3 separate regions of the Homo sapiens genome follow, and regions 1 and 2 are each linked to region 3. The links come from fine-mapping of genetic effects on gene expression. A gene starts in region 3. Each other region holds a variant in brackets. All regions are shown on one strand. Distances are from middle to middle.

The links. PIP is the estimated chance that this variant, and not a neighbour inherited with it, causes the effect.
Region 1: its variant is the best candidate, but not a certain one, in a credible set for the expression of ALKBH3 in whole blood (TOPMed, PIP 0.66).
Region 2: its variant is the best candidate, but not a certain one, in a credible set for the expression of ALKBH3 in cerebellum (GTEx, PIP 0.82).

Annotation. Positions count from the first base shown.
Region 1 is chr11:43,857,081-43,862,875 of GRCh38, reverse strand. No RefSeq gene overlaps it. Among named protein-coding and RNA genes, the nearest start is that of ALKBH3, 21 kb to the left of the region's middle. The variant C/T (reference allele first, on the strand shown) is at 3,825.
Region 2 is chr11:43,909,929-43,916,722 of GRCh38, reverse strand. All of the region lies in intron 8 of ALKBH3 (alkB homolog 3, alpha-ketoglutarate dependent dioxygenase), which reads right to left. It overlaps ALKBH3-AS1 (ALKBH3 antisense RNA 1), which reads left to right. Exons shown (of 6, transcript NR_038907.1): 4 at 1-54; 5 at 4,239-4,460; 6 at 6,210-6,794. Among named protein-coding and RNA genes, the nearest start is that of ALKBH3-AS1, 7.6 kb to the left of the region's middle. The variant G/A (reference allele first, on the strand shown) is at 3,681.
Region 3 is chr11:43,877,569-43,884,362 of GRCh38, reverse strand. ALKBH3 (alkB homolog 3, alpha-ketoglutarate dependent dioxygenase) reads right to left here and starts at 3,532. Exons shown (of 10, transcript NM_139178.4): 1 at 3,184-3,532; 2 at 1,632-1,780; 3 at 1,175-1,278; 4 at 346-380. The coding sequence starts at 1,710. It overlaps LOC105376644 (a long non-coding RNA gene), which reads left to right and starts at 3,626. Exons shown (of 3, transcript XR_001748200.2): 1 at 3,626-3,681; 2 at 6,287-6,380. RefSeq lists an enhancer at 3,547-3,746.

The sequences.
Region 1 (5,795 bases), 21 kb after region 3:
ACGCCTGTAATCCCAGCATGATTTTGGAGGCCGAGGTGGGTGGATCATTTGAGGTCAGGAGTTTGAGACCAGCCTGGCCAACATGGTGAAACCCCACCTCTACTAAAAAAAATACAAAAATTAGGCAGGCATGGTGGTGGGCGCTTGTTGTCCCAGCACTTGGGAGGCTGAGGCAGGAGAATCGCTTGAACCCAGGAGGCGGAGGTTGCAGTGAGCCAAGATTGCGCCACTGCACTCCAGCCTGGGTGACAGAGTAAGACACTGTCTCAAAACAAACAAACAAACAGAAAAACAGAATGAAGACTTGGCACTTGTAACTTGAGTCTCAGATAGATACAATGAGATAATGCCTGATAAATTTTCAGAAATGACAAAAGGCATGAATTCATAGATACAGGAAGCATACTGTAAACCAGGTAGAATAAATAAAGAGTTCCACACTTAGACACCTTGGCATGAAACTGAGGAACACCAAGTCAAAAGGTATTGCCAAAGAGGCCAGAGATATATCACCTACAACAAAAGGCACCATACTGATTTCTGAAAAACAACAATGGAAGCCAGAAGTCAGTAATATGATCCAGTATTTCATTAACTTTAAGATGCCATCAATGCTAAATCACACCACTATTTTATACAGCACCAGTAAAGAAAAAAAGTAATGTCAAATTATGATATGCACCAGAATATCTCAAATGTAGGAAATAAAGGTATACAAGGAACTTGATAAACAGGTGGTAATTTATTTTATACAAAAATGTGTGTATAAGATAATAAAAATGTCTAACTTATGGGGTTCTAAAAATCAGAGGTTAGGCTGGGCACGGTGGCTCACGCCTGTAATCCCAGCACTTGGGAGGCAGGATTACAGGCAGGTGAGGCGGGCGGATCACCTGAGGTCAGGAGTTTGAGACCAGCCTGGCCAACATGGCAAAACCCCGTCTCTACTAAAAGTACAACAAAGCCCAGCATGGTGGCACACATCTGTAATCCCAGCTACTCGGGAGGCTGAGGCAGCAGAATCGCTTGAACCCGGGAGGTGGAGGTTGCAGTGAGCCGAGATTGCGCCACTGCACTCCAGCCTCGGTGACAGAGCGAGACTCCATCTCAAAATAATAATAATAATAATAATAATAATAATAATAGTAATAATAATAATAAAATCAGAGGTTAGAATATTGGCCTACAATAGCATGTAAGTAGGGAAGGGGTTGATCAGACTTATGATGTTCCAAAGTCCATTATAAGTAAAGAACGGGTTATGATACCAGATAACTTTAGATTGTATTGAGTATGCATTGAAAAAGTTCAGGAGTAAACACAAGAAAAATATAAATAGAATGTAAAACTTTAAACCTAGTACAGAGGGAGAAATGGAATAATAACAATAATAAAACCAAACAGCCAATCAATAAGTAATGGAAAAAACGCATAAAAGAGAAACAAATAGTACAAAATAACATGATAGAAGTCTTCATGTTTTAAGAATTATAATAAATGTAAATGGAATAAAGTTGTCTACTAAAGGGTAGAGATGGCCAAATGAAAAGCCAAAATCCAGATTTATTTGACTTACAAGAGACAAAACTAAACCATCAACACGTAGGAGGTAAAAGGATTTAAAGATATACACTAAATACCAACCAAAGCTATATTGAGATAACAGAAAACAGATTTTTATTTGCTAAGGCAAAAAGCATTAGCAATAAGGAAGTCACTACATAACAAGAAGAGTTCAACTCACCAGGACAACACAAGAATTCCACACTTTATTCACTCAATAGAATGTATAAAGTTAAAACTGATAAAAGAGGGGAAATTGTCAAATCTACCATTACAGTAGGAGAATTCAAAATACCTTTATCAATTATTAATAGGTCAGACAAAAGTTAGTAAAGATATGAAAGATTTGAACAACACAATTAACAAGCAGTGCCACATATGTAGAAAACAATCAGAGGCCAGGTGCCTTGGCTTACGCCTGTAATCCCAACACTTCGGGAGGCCAAGGCCGGAGGATCATTTAAGCCCAGGAGTTCCAGACCAGCTTGGGCAACATACCCAGCTACTCAGGAGGCTGAGGTGGGAGGACTGCTTAAGCCCAGGATGTTGAGGCTGCAGTGAGCCAAGATCATGCCATCGTACATGCCTAGGGGACACAGTGAGACCAGTTTCCAAAAAAAAAAAGGAAACATAATTAGGAAGCACATGTGAAACACTTAAAAAACTGGCCATACTGTGGCTGGGTGCGGTGGTTCACGCCTGTACTCCCAGCACTTTGGGAGGCCGAGGCGGGCGAATCACGAGGTCAGGAGTTTGAAACCAGCCTGGCCAACATGGTGAAACCCCGTCTCTACTAAAAATATAAAAAATTAGCTGGGAGTAGTGGCGGACGCCTGTAATCCCAGCTACTCGGGAGGCTGAGGCAGGAGAATCGCTTGAACCCGGGAGGCGGAGGTTGCAGTGAGCTGAGATCGTGCCACTGCACTCCAGCCTGGCGACAGAGCAAGACCGTGTCTCAAAAAAAAAAAAAAAAGGAAAAAAAAGTGGCCACACCTGGACGTAAAACAAGTCTCAAAAATTTTCTAGCTAGGTGTGATGACTCATGCCTAGAATCCTAGCTACTTGGGAGGCTGAGGCAGGATTGCAGGAGGCCAGGTGTTCAAGACCAGCCTGGGCAACATACTGAGACCCCCATCTTTAAAAATAAAAATTATAAAGCCAGTGCCTATAGTCCTAGCTATTCAGGAGGCTGAAGAGGGAGGATCACTTGTAAGAGCCCAGGAGTTTGAGGCTGCAGTGAGCCATGGTCACGCCACTGCACTCCAGTCTGGGCAACAGAGAGAGACCCTGACACTAAACAAACAAACAAAACCTCTAATAGGTAATACAATTTACATTTGTGTTTCCTGGGGCTGCTGGAACAAATTTATCACAAACTCAGTGGTTTAAAACAACAGAAATTTATTCTCACAGTTCCCTGGAGACCAGAAGTCCAAAATGAGTGTTACTACACCAAAATCAAATTGTTGGTGGGATGCTTCATCCTCCAGAATTTCTAGGAGAGAATCTGTTCCTTGACCCTTCCTTTTTTTTTTTTTTTTTTTTTTTTTTTTTTTGTGGCTACTGATATTCCTTGGTTTGTGGCTGCATCACTCCAGTCCTCACCTTCATGATCACACTGCCTTCTCCTCTTCTGTCTGCAATCTCCCTGCCTCTGATTAAAGACACTTGTGATTGCATTTAGGACCTACCTAGATAATCCAAGAAAATCTCCCCATCTCAAGATCTCCAATTTAATCACATCTGCAAACACCTCATTTCCACGTAAGGTAACATAGGGTTCATGGATTAGGACCTGATGTCTTGGGGGCCATTATTCAGCCTACTACAACATATATTTATATACTTGTGCCTGGATGAGTTCTCAGTACTTTAAGTGTCTTAACTTCCTCTCAAACAATATATGACATAGGTGCTATTATTTCCATTTTTCAGATGGTAAAGCTGAGGCAGAGAAAGGCTATAAAAATTTGCCCAGGCTTTATCATACTCGCATGTTCTTTGACCACATGCAATTAGTTAGAACAAAAGCTATTTTTAAACTTTCTATTCTGAAATGATTCCAGATTTACAGTAAATCTGCAAAACAGTACAAAGTATCCATATACCTCCACATAGATTTTCCAAAGGTTAACATCTGACCCCATTTACTCTACCATTTTCTCTCTCTATAATTTTTCCTAAACCTTTTGTGATTCAGTTGCATATCAATATTCCGTTAACCCTAAACGCTCCAGTGTCTATTTCCTAAAAAACAAGGA[C/T]TTTTTCAAGGAACCATGACATTATTATCAAAATCAGGAAGTCACACTGATATAATGCTATTAATAATTTACAGACCTTACTCAAATTTTACCGAATGTCTCAAAAATGTCCGAAAGAACAAAAGTTTAAAAAATGCTTTCTTGACCAAGATCCAGTCCAGAAACACGTGCTGCAGGTACTTGTCACGTCACTTTAGTCTCCTTTAACTTGAAATTTTTGAGAAGTATAGGCTGGTAACTTTGTAGGATATTCCTCATTTTATCTTTTTCTGATATTTCTCTCTACTATGTTCATGTTATGCATTTTTGGCAGGAATATCACATAATTAATGTTGTGTCTTCAGCACATTTTATCAGGATTCACAAAATATAAAATTGTCTTATTAATAGTGATATTAACATTACAAAATTTTTTTGAAAAGGAAATACATTTATAAAACTCTTAAGTCTGTGCATTTAAAAATACTGTAAAATAATTAACAGGTCAAATAAATCATAATGTAAAGATATGAATGGAAAAGCAATAAAAATGTGTATATATACATGTTTGTATACATGCATACACTCAATCATGGGGTGAGGCAAAGGAGGTAATTCAAATAAACTCAGATACTTACTAAAAATAGAAAAAACCTTGAACATGAATGAGTTAAATGTCCAATTTATGAAATGAGAAAACAACAGAACAAACCATCAGAAAGCAGAACATAAAAGAGAAGGGCAGAGAGAATGAACAAAGCTAAGACTGGTTCTTTAAAAAAATAAAATAGACAAACTTCTGGTAAAACGGCCAAGGAAAAGAAAGTGAGAAGATACAAACAGTATCGGAAAAGGAAGTATGCATATCCAGGAGAGGTTTAGAAATAAGAAAATTCCTTAAGCTACTTTATGCTAATAAATTGTAAAATGGGTAAATGCTTAGATTTTTTTTCAAAATTGACTCAAGAAAAAAAAATAGAATTCCTGAATAGTCTAATTATAGTAGTTAAAGTCTTCCCACCAATAAATACCAGGGCCAGACAGCTTTATAAACTTTTAACAAACAGATCATTCCAATCTTTTGCAAATTCTTATGGAGAACAGGAAAAAAGGCAACACTTTCCAATTCATTTAATGGAGTTATAATCTTGACACCATAAACTGACCAAAAAAGTGTAAGAAAGGCAGACTGCAGGCCAATTTCATGTAGATGCAAGAATCCCAGGTAAAATACTTGAAACAAACTGATTTCAGTAGTGTATAAAGATAAGGAAATATAACCAAGAATGGAGAAGTGATTCTTGTCTACTCTAGTCTTTCTGTGTTCAATCCTTTTTTTTTTCTTTTCTTTCTTTTTTTTTCTTTTTGAGATGGTGTCTCACTCTGTCGCCTAGGTTGAAGTGCAGTGGCACAATCTCGGCTCACTGCAACCTCCGCTTCCCAGGTTCAAGGGATTCTCCCACCTCAGCCTCCTGAGTAGCTGGGACTACAGGTGTGCACCACTGAGCCCAGCTAATTTTTGTATTTTTTTTAGAGGCAGGGTTTCACCATGTTGGCCAGGCTGGTCTTGAACTCCTGACCTCATGATCAGCCGGCCTCAGCCTCCCCAAAGTGCTGGGATTACAGGCATGAGCCACTGCGCCTGGCCCGTCTGTGTTCAAATCTTATCTAGTATGCATTAGAACATAAAATCAAGTCAACATAAAGTTAAGTCTGAAATTTTTACTTGACTATTTTGAAGGTTTGGAGTATACTGTTTTCTCTTTTAACATAATTTTTCTTTTCATGTGCCTAGAAAAATACATTTTTACGTCATCACCTTCACCCTGGAGTGTCAAATACAAGTGGGTGCTTGCCAAGTTGAAGCAATCAAAGCCACAGCTCAGAAGTTTTGAAATTCTTAAGGGATTTTCTAGCCAGAATTACAACTGCTTTCTTTTTTTGAGACAGGGTCTTACTATGTCACTCAGACTGGAGTGCAGTAGTAGTTCA
Region 2 (6,794 bases), 32 kb before region 3:
GGCTGTGCATAAAGGCTCCAGTTGATAAATGGATAAGCAACAGTGGAAACACAGGTCAGACTGTTTAGAAGAGTGCCTTCCTAGTCATTAAGCGTGGTTAAGTTACCCAAACACATCTCTGTAGCCCTTTTGATTTACTCAGGGTTTTCTTCAAAACAAAACAAAACACACCCCCCAAAACCAGGGCTAAGGATAAAATTTTCCATCACTCATCCTGGTTAAAAGCAGCTTTTAGGGTCACACTCAAGCTACAGGGTGGGTTTTGTTATTGATGTTCTTGGTTTTCCAAATACTTGAAACCCTACGAGTACATGGAAAAAGCGAAAAACATGTATTTTTATATTAATGCTGATCAACATTCTCATTCCTCCAACCGCAGCCAGTTCATTTGAAGGCTTAATTATGCTTTTCTAAAGCTTCTCACAACTCTTACCTCCACCTCACCAACATATCCTATTCAGTTTCCTTTAAGAAAATGCTATTTGGGGTGAAAAAATCTGGATGTATTTACTGTTATGTCATTATTAACCATCCAACAGATGGGAAACCTAAACATTTTTCTTTCCATTGGAAAGGTAATTCATACTGTATGAGATTTGGAGTTTTCTTAAAATCATCCCTTTCTTGTCCTAAAAGAATGTCTTAGAAATTACAAACAATCATCAATGCTTTAAAATCATCATACAGGTTTTCCTTCTAGAATATAAAAAGTAACATAAGTTTACTAAAGTAAATGATGCACTTGTAATTATTTATTCAACCTCTGCTCTTATAAACTCCATGAGGGAAAGTTTATGTGGTCTTCCTGTTAAGAAACATTCTCAGTGCCTATCACACATATGAATAAATATGTACTGAATGACTGAGGAAGAGTACACAGAAAATGTAGAAAATCGCCTGTAATCCTATCATCCAGAGTTTATACAACATACACACAGAGTCTTCCAGATATACAATCGTGTGTACTCCATTTTTAATATTTTATTGAGCATTTTTCTATATCTTTAAATATACATTTCAAAAATATGGTTATAGAATATTCCTTTGTATGAACATATCCTTCCTTTAAACTCACAAATACCTTTTGACCACCTGTATATATCAGGCATTATGCTAGTACTAAGGATGGAGCAGTAAGGAGCACATGGTTGGAGATTGATTTTCATACACCAGTATTTTTTTTTAAAAAGAGGGAAAATAAATAAAAAGCTGCTGCAAGCAGATTTTTGGGCAAAACATTTCTGCATATATTTCTAGGATATATTCTTAAAAAATGGAATTACTGGAGCCAAGTGTATGAACTTTAAGGCACTTGATTTATATTACCAAACTGCTTTCTTGAGAAGGCTGCAGCAATCTATAATCTCACCAGGAAAACATGACAGTACCTATCTTCTGGCTGAACATTATCAACTGACAGTAACGAAAAACAATTAGGGGAGAAATGACAACTCATTCAAACTTAGAGATCTTGGATTACAAGCCAAGTTCTTTTTTTTTTTTTTTTCTTTTTTTGAGACAGAGTCTCACTCTGTCACCCAGGCTGGAGTGCAGTGGTGTGATCTCGGCTCACTGCAACCTCCACCTCCTGGGTTCAAGCGATTCTTGTGCCTCAGCCTCCCGAGTAGCTGGGATTACAGGTGCCTGCCACCATGCCTGGCTAATTTTTTTTTATTTTTAGTAGAGATAGGGTTTCACCATGTTGGCCAGGCTGGTCTTGAACTCCTGGGCTCAAGTGATCCACCTGCCTTGGCCTCCCAAAGTGCTGGGATTACAGGTGTGAGCCACCACACCCAGCCCAAGTTCAACTTTTTTTTTTTCATTCTGTTTGCTGTTTGTGTTTCTTCTGCTGTGAACACTCTCTGTTCATGTCCTTTGTCCATTGTTCTATGGGGGTGTTAACACTGTTTTCTTATTGATCTACAACCACAGATATTAAGGCATTTGTTTGTCATACTTTTTGCAAATGCTTTTCTCATTTGCTATTTGCCTTTTAACTGTACTTATGGTATTTAACATGGAATAGCTCAAAAATTTTAGAGTCAACTCTACTGACCTTTCTTTGGCTCGTCTTCATGATTTTTATGCTTAGAAAGTCTTTTCCCATCCTGAGGAAAGTTAAATATACAACTGTATTTCCTTTTAGTTTTTTTTTTAAGAGTTTACATTTTTTAGATTTAACTCTTTAATCTACATGGAGTTTGTTTTTTGGTGGTGGTTGGGTTATTCTTTTTTTTCCATGCTTCTTTTTATAACAGTTTCCAGGTACTTAAACCAAAGCATCCTGCCAGACTTCTTCCACAAGATCTACGATGGCATGTGCTCAGGTGCCAGGCACATCAGGCACTCTATATCCGTTATTGCTAATCCTCACTACAACCTTGTAAGGGAGGCAAGGAAGGTGATATTATCCATTTTATCATAAGCAAAGGGAGCTGGAGGGAAAATATTTCTCTAAGGCAAAAGCTAGCAGGAGGGCAGGCTAGCATTTGAATGTAGATTGGCCCGGCTCTAAAGCCCTATTCTTTCCACTATACTCTGCTCTCCAAGGTAAGCTCTATTCCTTCTGAAATCCTAATATTTCCTGTCCTGATTATATGGCACCCTGACTATACTGTAGGGGTCACAAACACCAGCAAGTAGCATAAGTGAGAGGTGTGGGCTGGGTGCAGCACAGGGAGGAGAGGGACCCATGCAGAACCAGGGGCCTGCAGAAAGGTGGTGGCTGCTCTGCCAATGAGCCATTTCAGATCACTGTTCCCCCAGTGCTGCCCCCTCTTCTGGGTTTTCCAGGGAAGCTGACAAGTGGGATTTTTATGTGAAATTTCCTGAGTTATAAATTTTCGCAATTAATTCAGTGTCTTTAAAAACACTGGGCAATTTAAACAAGTCTGAGGGCCAGATTCAGCTCCAGGGTTGCCCAGCTATGCTGCTGATAGGTCCATGACATGACTGCCTTCTTTGATTCCCTTGTCAGTCACCTTAGCAGACTTGTAAGCGTCTAAGACCGTTGTCATCTGATGTGCTTCTTGCATCCCCTTTGCCATTCCATGCAGTAGTGCCTGAGAGATGCTCAGGACACAAGTGCTACTTCATCTTCAAATATCATCTTCCTTTACTGAATTAAATCTAGAGGTAGAAACTGTGGGGAAATATCAAATACACGTACAATTGCTTTTAGTTAGCAACTGATTGTAGCATAGGCTCCTCCAAGGTTTCAAGCAATGGACAGAGTTTTAAATTATAGTGGATTTGTTTAATTTATTATTTGATAGTAATCTGAATAAATCTTAGAGGCCATTATCACTTAAATAATAGTATATCTAGGTCTTTCAAATTAAAATTATACCTGAATAATGGAGGGTGGAGGACGGGACGGGGGTGAGGACGGAAAAACTACCTATCGGGTACTATGCTTATTAGCCGGGTGATGAAATAATCTGTATACCAAACCCCCGTGACAGACAAGTTACCTATATAACAAACCTGCAAATATACCTAACCTAAAACAAAAATTAAAAAAAAATTAGACCTGAATGAAGCTGTCTGTACACATGAAGTATATTTGTGTACCATGACCAAGTTTGTCGCCTGTACTTGTTTTTTTTTTTTTTTTAACAACTGGAAATTATTTACTGTATCTCATTTATGTCTGTCTATCATAAAGAATTGATCAATAT[G/A]TAAATATGTGATTTGAACCATGGTTGACTTTTTGAACCATGGTTGACTTATGAGTGTTGCTACAACATTTTAGAAAACATAGCCTGTTCCATGTATTAACCAAGGCCCAGGAGAGCCAGTAGGCTTGTGCTTTGTGTAGAGCTGGGAGAGGCCATCCATCCTGTCTCTCAGTGGACAATGTACTTTCCTGATAAGGAAGGGAAGCACAATGGAAATACACCTCAACTGTTTTATTGCAGTAATTTTTTTTGTATCTGAAACTGTATTGTTTAATATATTAAGATTTTAAAAAATAAATGCCATGATTTTAAAAAATTATCACATTCTTCATCTCACCCCTAACTCAATCAGAAAAAGTCATTCAAAGCAAAATATGCTTCCAAATTACTGATCTCAGATAACAGTGAGGCAGTTGGTTTTCCACATCATCTCTGATTCCTTAGATGAGCAAAATAGAAAAACCTCCATCTCTGTACTAAGAAGACACTTATAAAAACAAAACACAAATGAGCAGAAAGGACAAGGTAGAAGCCTGCTACCTGTTTCTTGTTTTACAGGTTCACAGGAAGCACCTGGCACACAGTAACTATTATTAATTTCTGCACTGGAGGCATCAGGAAAGCCTTCACGCTATAGGGGGCCCTTTTAAGTTAAGAAGTTGGAGAGCAAGCCTCGGGGAAAGCAAAGAGATAACTTAGTAGAATGGAGCAACCATACGGGAACAGTGAGAGTCCATGGATCTCCCTGGGCTAAGATCATGTATGGATTTGGCAATCTGGGTAAGGAGTTTCTATTTTATCCTTTGTTCCAACAGAAGCAAATTAAGATTTTTCAGGTGGAAAACAAAGTGATGAAAGCAGTGAGCTCAACCTTTGAGGCTCTATGCTCCCTTCTTGTTTTTTGTTTGTTTGTTTGTTTTGAGAAGGAGTCTCACTCTGTGGCCCAGGCTGGAGTGCAGTGGTGCGATCTCGACTCACTGCAACCTCTGCCTCCCAGGTTCAAGCGATTCTTCTGCCTCAGCCTCCTAAGTAGCTGGCATTACAGGCGCGCACCACCACGCCTGCCTATTTTTTTTGTATTTTTAGTAGAGACGGGGTTTCACCATGTTGGTCAGGCTGGTCTCGAACTCCCGACCTTGTGATCCGCCCACCTCAGCCTCCCAAAGTGCTGGGATTACAGGCATGAGCCACGGCGCCTGGCCGCTCCCTTTTTTATTCTCTTTCTCTGAATGATAATGTACAATTCCACAGTTTTACATATGGTCTATATTATTAGTTTTAATTCGATTCCACATTCAACAAATAGTTGTCTAAGCCATCTTGGGCAAGTAATTTAACACTGAGTCTCAGTCATCTCATCTGTACAATGGAAATAATAATGGCATCAACTATATAAAATTATCAGAGAATTCAATAAAGAAGTTAGAGCAGAGCCAGGCACAGTCAGCACTATACACTTGTTATTTATTATTAGCGTTTTACTATTGCGGTTATTCCAAAATTCCCAAATGACATCTCCAGCCAGGCCTGTTGTCTGAACTCCAGACTTACACAGTCGACTGCCTACTTAACATTTGGAAGCCTCAGGCACCTCAGATTTTGCACGTAGAAGAAGGAACTCCTCCAGCAGGGACAAAATCAAATGCAGAAATCCCAGCTTCTCTTCCACCTGAGTAAACAGCAACTCCACTCACCACTGCTCAAGTCAGACACCTGGGAGTCTGGATCCTTACCCCCACATCTAACATATTACTGGCAAGTTCTGTTGATTCATCCTCAGAAATATACCTCAAACCCATTAACTTCTCTTCATCCCCAATGCCACCTTAGTCCAAGCTAGCAGTCTCCCACTGCGATGACTACAACCACCTACTCTTTTAGTCTCCTACTCTTGCCTCTTCCCAAATTATTCTTCACACAGCAGCCACAGTGATCTTCTAAAATAAAAATTCAGAGCTCTAACCATGAGTTGTAACTATTTCTCTCTGTTTATTTGATTATAGTCTAGCTCCTGTAACCCCCATAAGGGCAGGGACTATGTTTGTCATGTTCACTGCTATATCCCCAGAGCTGAGCATAGTATAATACCTGACACATAGTAGGGGTTTAATTAATATTTGGAGAGGGGAGAATGAGAGAAGACAGTGAGAGAGAGGCAGGAAAGAACTGTTCCTGGAAATAATACCTGACATCTGGGTAATGGACAGAAGAGAGGGAGCAAAGATTGGAATTAAGGACATCAGGGTGAAAAAAAAAGTCATTTTAGTACTGTAGGCATGGGTTAAAAAGTGCCTGGGATAAAGATGGTCACTGTAAGAGAGATGGGTTCTTTAGATAGTTCAAGAAAGAATTCAGATGACTTGGGACTTGATAATATATGAGAAACAAAGGAACAAGGAAGAGCTGAAAATAACTTACGGTGTTAACCTGACCAAGAGAATGGTTAGGTTAACATGAACATAAATGAACTTACCAGCAAGTGTGGAGTTTTTCTGAAAGAACAATACGAATCTGATTTTATCATTACAGGGTGGAAGCCACATGTGCTGTTATTAAGTGGAAATGTCTCGTGAACATGTGGAAAGTGATGACTGGAACTTCAGATGAAAGTCAAAGCTGGAGATAGGAGATTCAGAAGTCACCCCACCAAAGAAGGAATGGTTAAAGCTATAAGAACTAATGAGATCCTATTTATTTGCTTATTCAATCAACATATGTAGAACTAAATGCTAAGAATGTAATGATAAATAAGACAGAAAGGGACCTTGCCCATATGGTATTTACAATCTACTGCCAGTTCATAATCTCCTAAAAAATAATGTAGAGAACAATAACAGAATCAAAGAAATCTTGAACGTCTATATTTAAGGGGTTGAATGTAAAAGAAAAGGCCTTAAAGGAGGCAGAAAAATAGCAATGAGAAAAGTTTGGGAATTCTAAAACAAGACAGTATTTCAGAGGAAGAAAACGCAGGTAATACATGGGCAAGTTTCACACACAGAGGTGATGCATCCTGGTGACCAATATTACAAGGAAGAGAGATGATGACTGAGGACAGGCTGGTGGACTTGATTTGAGGTCAACGGTATGAGGATAATTTCAGCAGAGTGGTGG
Region 3 (6,794 bases):
GCTTCTCAAAGAACCATGCTTCAATGACTCAGGAAAAATCCCTCTCTGTCTTTGCCTGAGAGGTTTAGCTTACTGTCTACAGATATCGGTGAAATAGGGCCAGGAAATCTACACAAGTCAAAGTTTAACATATGGATATCTTGTTGCATTTTCAATACTATCAGCAAATTCAGAAAGTCTTCTCAAAAGATCAAGTTTAAAGACATTTGAGATGGGAATATCCCAGACTACAGTTAAGACACTTATTGGGCCATTCTCTTCCAGATAGAAAAAACAGTGAGGAAAGATTCCAGGCTCTTCATTTCACTGTGGGCAACAATTACAGGAAGACAGCAAATTACTTACTCAATCACTCGTGGCTCAGGAGCTCTACGTACTACCTGCAAGGAAATAGGCGGATCTTACTTCTGGGATGTTCTTAATCCTCAAGGATACTGACTTACCATATCTTCCCATTTCTGGTCAAAATAAAGTTAAAAACTATCTCTTTTCTATTCCAACTTCTCACTAACCCACTAGAGACCCTTGTCTCCACTCTTCTTAAAACTACTTCACATTTGCTAGTAGACAGTAAAAGAAGATACAATTATTAATAGAATAAATTTTCCTAGCAGCCAGCAGCTCTGGAAAAATCTTGACAAGATTTTTTAAAATAGAAAATATGCTATAAAATAAGGAGTTTTAATAATTATTTATAGGGTTGTTACTATGGCAAGAAACCCAACTTTTTAACTTTTCCACATTATTAAAAAGTAAATCTTCACTGTTTCCTACATTTTTCCTCATGGGAAAAAAGGGCTAAAAATCAGGCATTTTATTGTAAAAACTGAAATTTTAATCCAATTCCAAAGATGGTGAAGTGCAATAGCACTGAAGACAGCACAGTTTTAGGACTGCTGGAGCTCAAATAACCAATGCAAGCAAGCTCTCATTATGGTGTAACCTCCTTGCCAAAAATACGGGAATAACATGTGACCATAAACTGGGAGCAGACTACGAAGAATCCCCAGACATAGAAAGGAACTGAAATATTTCTCATTTCATTATTATTATAGTTCTTCTGCTCTGCTATTAGTGAATTTATTCAGTCATTATTTATTTGAGTGTCTACTGTGTGAATATCACTTTTCTAAGCAAATTTTTATCACTATTGAAGAAAAAACCATGAATTTACCTGCTGAGGTTCTTTGAACACAAACTCTCTGTCAGAGAGATGATGCTCTTTGTTCTTCCAGGTCTGGCCAGGCTTCTGGTGGAGATGGCTCTTAGCAGTGGTAGCTGAAGCAAGAGAGGGGACAGCCTCAAACCAGGGGAAAGTCTGTTCTCAGCACCTTCTACTGAGCAAGGGCCAATAAAGCCCACTTGGAGATGATCTCTATGACATGTAGAAACTAACTGGTAAAGTCAACAGAAGATACTGAAAGGTTTGAGGGTGTGGACTAAATATGAGGAACATTAAAGACCCACCCTTAGCTCACCATCAACAAAATCGGACAAAATATCAGCCACATTTTAAACAATTCCTTGACGTCAATTGAAATGGAAGTCCATTATAAACCAAAAGGATATAAATAAAAGAGAATGAGAGTTGTCCATATCCACACACACACAAAATCCCTACAGATTCTTGCCTGGCTGAGCAATGGCCTGGCTTTTAACAGGGGCAGCCCAGGCTCCCTGAACTCGGGCTCGCCGTCTTTTTTCCTCCATGTTGACCAAAAAGGCTTCTGCTCCGAGCTTTCAGAAGATTTTGTTCCTGTTTCAAACTACTCCATGGTATCTGTTTATTAAAACAAAACAAAACAGTGCTTTTAGTTAGGATTGTGAACAATTACTCCTAAGGCATAATTAATTTCAGGCAGAAGACTCTCAATGGCAATAGAGCTTCCATGTAAAATCAGTTTATGTCATCACAACATTTCATTCAAGAAGCCTAGTCATTTGGGGCTGCTGGCTTTAGCATTCACCTTTTGTAATCTTACCATAGTACTTTTGTTTCTTTCACAAGAAAGTGCATTTTAAGAAATTCTAAAATTAGGACCTATTATAAACCACATTCCTCTTAATAGTCCCCAAGAGTAGAATATAAGGAAACTGTACTATTCCCATTTTCACCTACATGGACATTGAGAAATCGGCTAAGACTGTTTCCAAGCATATATTCCATTATCACTGGCTGCATCAAACTTCCCTGGAAGTTTGTTCAAAATACCTATGGCCCACCTTCAGAAAATCTGATTTAGGATGGATACAGGTATTTGTCTTTATAACAAGCAGTGTAAGATTTGACACAATGCAGGTATGTATGTGGACGGTAAAGTTCAATGATGCACCCAAAGCCACTCAGGAAATCAACAACAGACAGATTAACATTCAACTTATATTAAACTCCTGTCTCCAGCTAACGGATAAATCCACCTCATAATGGCTAATAATACTAATTTGACAGTTGTACCAGTAAAAGCTTAGCCTACAGCAAATGCAGAAGCACGTACAGCTACCAAAACAACAAGGAAATTCAAGCCACATGTTCCACATCTGTAATCTATTTCTTTATGCTTCTACCTAAGAAAGCTTCACACCTCAAGTTCTCAAAGGTAAAAGCTCGTTTTATATTAATAGCTTGCTTAGACTATAGATTCCCAGGTCCCATCTCCCACCTCTTCTGATTCAGTAGAGCTGAGCCAGGCCCAGGAATCTGTGTGTTTAACAAGTTCCCCCAGATGATAAGCATGTAATTCATTTCATTTAATAGGTGGAGAGACGCAGAGGCTGCCATCTGCCCAGAAGAGTTAATGACAATCAAATACCAATTCTCCAATCCCAGGAGCTCCCGTTTGACATGTTCTCTCAATTGAGGCCCTAAAAGCGTAACACAATTACCTACAGTCCCCGCAGAGGATACGACTTGCTCACCTTCTTGCTCCATTCACTGGGGAGCCATATGTTATTTGCCAGGGAACAATTGTTGAAAATAGATTCCAGAGCCCCATCCCAGATCTACTCAATTTGTAGAGTCCCAGAATTTGTTAACTAACGCCACCCTCAACCCAGGAATTCTTAATGCACATAAAGCTTGAGAACCAGTGCTGTAAAATACAAGGACTCTGGCGCCAGCCAGAACTCGCTTTGAATCCAGATCTGTCACTTCCCAGCTGCATGGCCCATGGCAAATGACTTCACCTTTCTGAGCCCCAGTTTTTCCTCAGTAAACAGGGCAGTCACTTTCCGCACGGTTGAGGTGCAGACTAAGCGAGCTCCGCAGGTGGAAGAGCTTGGTCGTGGATAAGGGCACTTCCTTTTCCTAATTTAGATCCTTCTCTTTAAGGAGGCCTAGAATGAGGCCCCGGAGGTCGCCCAGGAAGAGACTTCAGGGGTGGTACTCGCACCCCCAGCCCCGCGCACCCAGCAGTAAGTCAGGAAGGCGCACTTGCGGGCGGAGCCGGGCGCGCCCGTGCAAACCCGGTAGGACTTGGGGCAGCCCTCGCAGCCCCTGACCCACTCCGCAGTCTGTGATCGGAACCTTAAGAGTGAAGCACCGACTCCAGCAACTCCCAATCACAGGCCGCGGCATCAGGCACTTCCTCTCGACGTTACGCAGCGCCGCCACTACTTCCGGTGCGCAGTCCTCAGTCCGGGTAGTCCCACATCCCCCGCGCCTGGAGGGCCTAATCACCGAAGGTGCTGATGAGGGGATATGTGTTGCAGCGGACAGGGATTGAGAGTGCAGGGGAGCGGTGTGAAGGGGTCGGGGTTTGGCAAAGGTGGAAGTGAAGGCGTGTCTCCTACGTGAGTTCCTCGAAACTGGAGATGTCCAAGCATCGGCATCTTTGTGGCAGAAAGAGTGACCGGGTCCCTGTGGGACTAGATAAAGGGAGAGGAGTTTGGGGGACCTGGTTATAATGTGTTAGGCAAAAGGATTTGCATTTTATCCTAAAAACCACGGAGAGCCTGAAATGAGCCTCCTTTGTGTTCCTATTGCAGCCTGTGCACACCTCCGAACACAGCATTTACAGCAGGGCGTAGGACCACGCCTTAATTCACCTTGGCTCTCTCCAGTGCTAAGCAAATTTGCTTGAGTGAACAGACCTACATTTTGGCCCAGACACCACCACTTACTAGTTGTATAATCTAGGGCAAGTACTCTGCCTCTTTTTAAAATGGGTATCGCTCTTTTTGGGAGGATTAAGTGAGATAATGCATTTAAAGAATATAGCACAATGCCTGGAACACAACAAAAACTCAAAAAATGAAAAAGAGCTCACCCCATTTGAGCTCATGAGAAACATCTTTAAAATGGTCATGTTAAACCATGTACTTTACAGTATGAAAATAGCAAAAGTAGCACTGAATTGACTGTTTTATGCAAGTCATTCTCTAAGATCCGCCAAAGTATAGTCACTGTGGAAATCTTTAAAATAAGCCTGATATGAGTGTTTACCTTCAGGAAGCTCATTATAGGTACACCTCATCAATGTGTACCTATATTGTTGCTACTATCAAATCCATTTTCACAGCACTCATTATTATTTGTTATACTTTGTGACACTGAAGGAAAAAAATGATTTATCCTAGACCTGAAAGGAGAGAAAATGCTAAGGCCACACTACAGTTTTTTTCCCCCATCAACTAATTTGTCAATGTCTGCTTCTGGCTCAGGAACTTTGGCTGTATCTTCTAAAATATGTTATTTCTTTCTTTTCAATGATTATAGTTTTGGAACAGGAACAAAGAAGTCTGGATTGAGGAGTTCCTAAAAGTAGTGATTGACACCTCTTCAGCCTCTACGTAGTGTATTTCTCAAAGATCAATCCATGATTTACTTGCATCTGAAATTACTGCTTTTTTTTTGTTTAACAGAATCACCTGCGTTTTTAACAAGCACCCAAGTGATTCTGGTGCACAAAAATTTTGAAAACCTCTAGGACATATGTAGGATGACAAATTGTTCTGGTTTGTATGGGCCTGAGGAGTTTCCCAAGACACAGGACTTTAAGTGCTAAAGCCAGGACAGTCCTGGGCAAACTGAGATGGTTGGTTACCCTAGACGATGCGAGTATATAGTATTAGATGTTCTTAATGGTCTTGGCATCCTCATTAGGGTCTTGACTTTCTTATTTCTATTTGAAGTGTTTGAGTTTTTATCAGGAGGTGGTGGTAGAGACCATGGGAGAAGGAATGAAGGCGAAGTGTGTTGCCAATTATCAACCTATTGAGTCTCCATTCCAAACCCACCCTTCACTACCCTGTTTGCAATATTGGAAGGTTTCTCCCTTGCCTTTTGGTTCAATGGACAGTGAGCTTCATCAGTGGAGGGTACTGGAGGAACTTTAGAGGAGGAAGGGGCTCTTTTTTCTGGTTCCAGTGTGCTCCTCTCAGCTGGCTCTTTAGTGCACAGTGGCCCACAGTGTTTGACTACTCCCTGTGGGCTGAATTACCAGGTTAGTTTCTCTTCTGAAAGTTAAGGCATCAATTGGGAAGGAATGGAATCCCAAAATTTGAAATAAGCACTCTGCTTAGACCCAGATAACTGACAGTCTTGAACACCCATGGCACCCTGAGCCTTCCTTGGCAGTGGAAGTAGCTTGTCCTCCTAAGTCTGAGGAGACTAGTCATTCTTTGCTTGAAGACACTGCTAAGCCCTCAGCTGGGGCAGATGACTTCAAAAGGGAAGCTCATTCTCTACAAGACCCAGCAGAATTTACTTCCCCTTCTTCTGCCTCATTGCCACTAGACCCTAACTAGGTTCAAACCTCATTAATGCTCCAGGTAGGCTGCTACACACTATGATCTAGGATAAAACAGCTTGCACGCTGAAAGAACTATACTAATTACACGTACTTTGCTAATGTATGGAATGTGTGGAAGTGGATTCTAACTGTTTTAAACTAAGGAGGGCAGTATATAGTACTATATCAGGCCAATTATATGGAGGCATTTACTAGAGTGCATTTACAGACATTGTGTTGACTCATGCAACTGGAAATGACTCTAACAGCTTATTTGGTGGATTTATTGAAGATTTAACTCAACAGTAGTCTATGGTTAATCCTACTGAGATGCCAAGGCACGATGTAGAGGCGGGAACCCAAAGACTGAGAAGGGTAGAAATGTTGGACTGAATTTATCAAATGTGACCCTGACCCACGTGCAATAGACACAAACACAAAAACTATATCCTACAACAAGATCCAGAAGATGCTCCTTTTTCTAAAGCATTGAGAAATACTTTAGACAAGGGAGCACTTGCATCCTTGGAAAGCTCTGTGGTTGCTCTCCTTTGCAGGCCAGGTGTGATCATGGAAGATGCCACCATTGAGTTGGGTCCCCTGGTTTTACTGGAGATGATGAGGCCAAGTGGCAGCACTTAATTATTAAAGGTAAGGACATTGATCCAATACAGAAGCCAGGACATACCAGTAATCAGAATATGTTGGTCTATAAGGATCTTTGGTAGTGGCCATGGTGTCCCTAGGAATGAAACAGATGGGCAGCCTACTAGAGAATTGTTTGATCTATCTAACAGAAAAAAAGTCTATGTCTAGTAGCCAAAAACCTTACCTGGCCACACTGGATAGACATATCTCTCACCTAGTTTCCAGACAAGTCATATCACGACCCCAAACCTCTTGATTGACAGGGAAGCCACATCTCTTGGAGGAAGGACCCTGCACCATTGTCACAAGTATATACTGTAAATTTTCCTCCAAGTCTTTTTTTTGAGACAGAGTCTCGCTCTATCACCCAAGCTGAGAGCAGTGGCGTGGTCTCGGCTCACTACCAGCTCCGCCTCC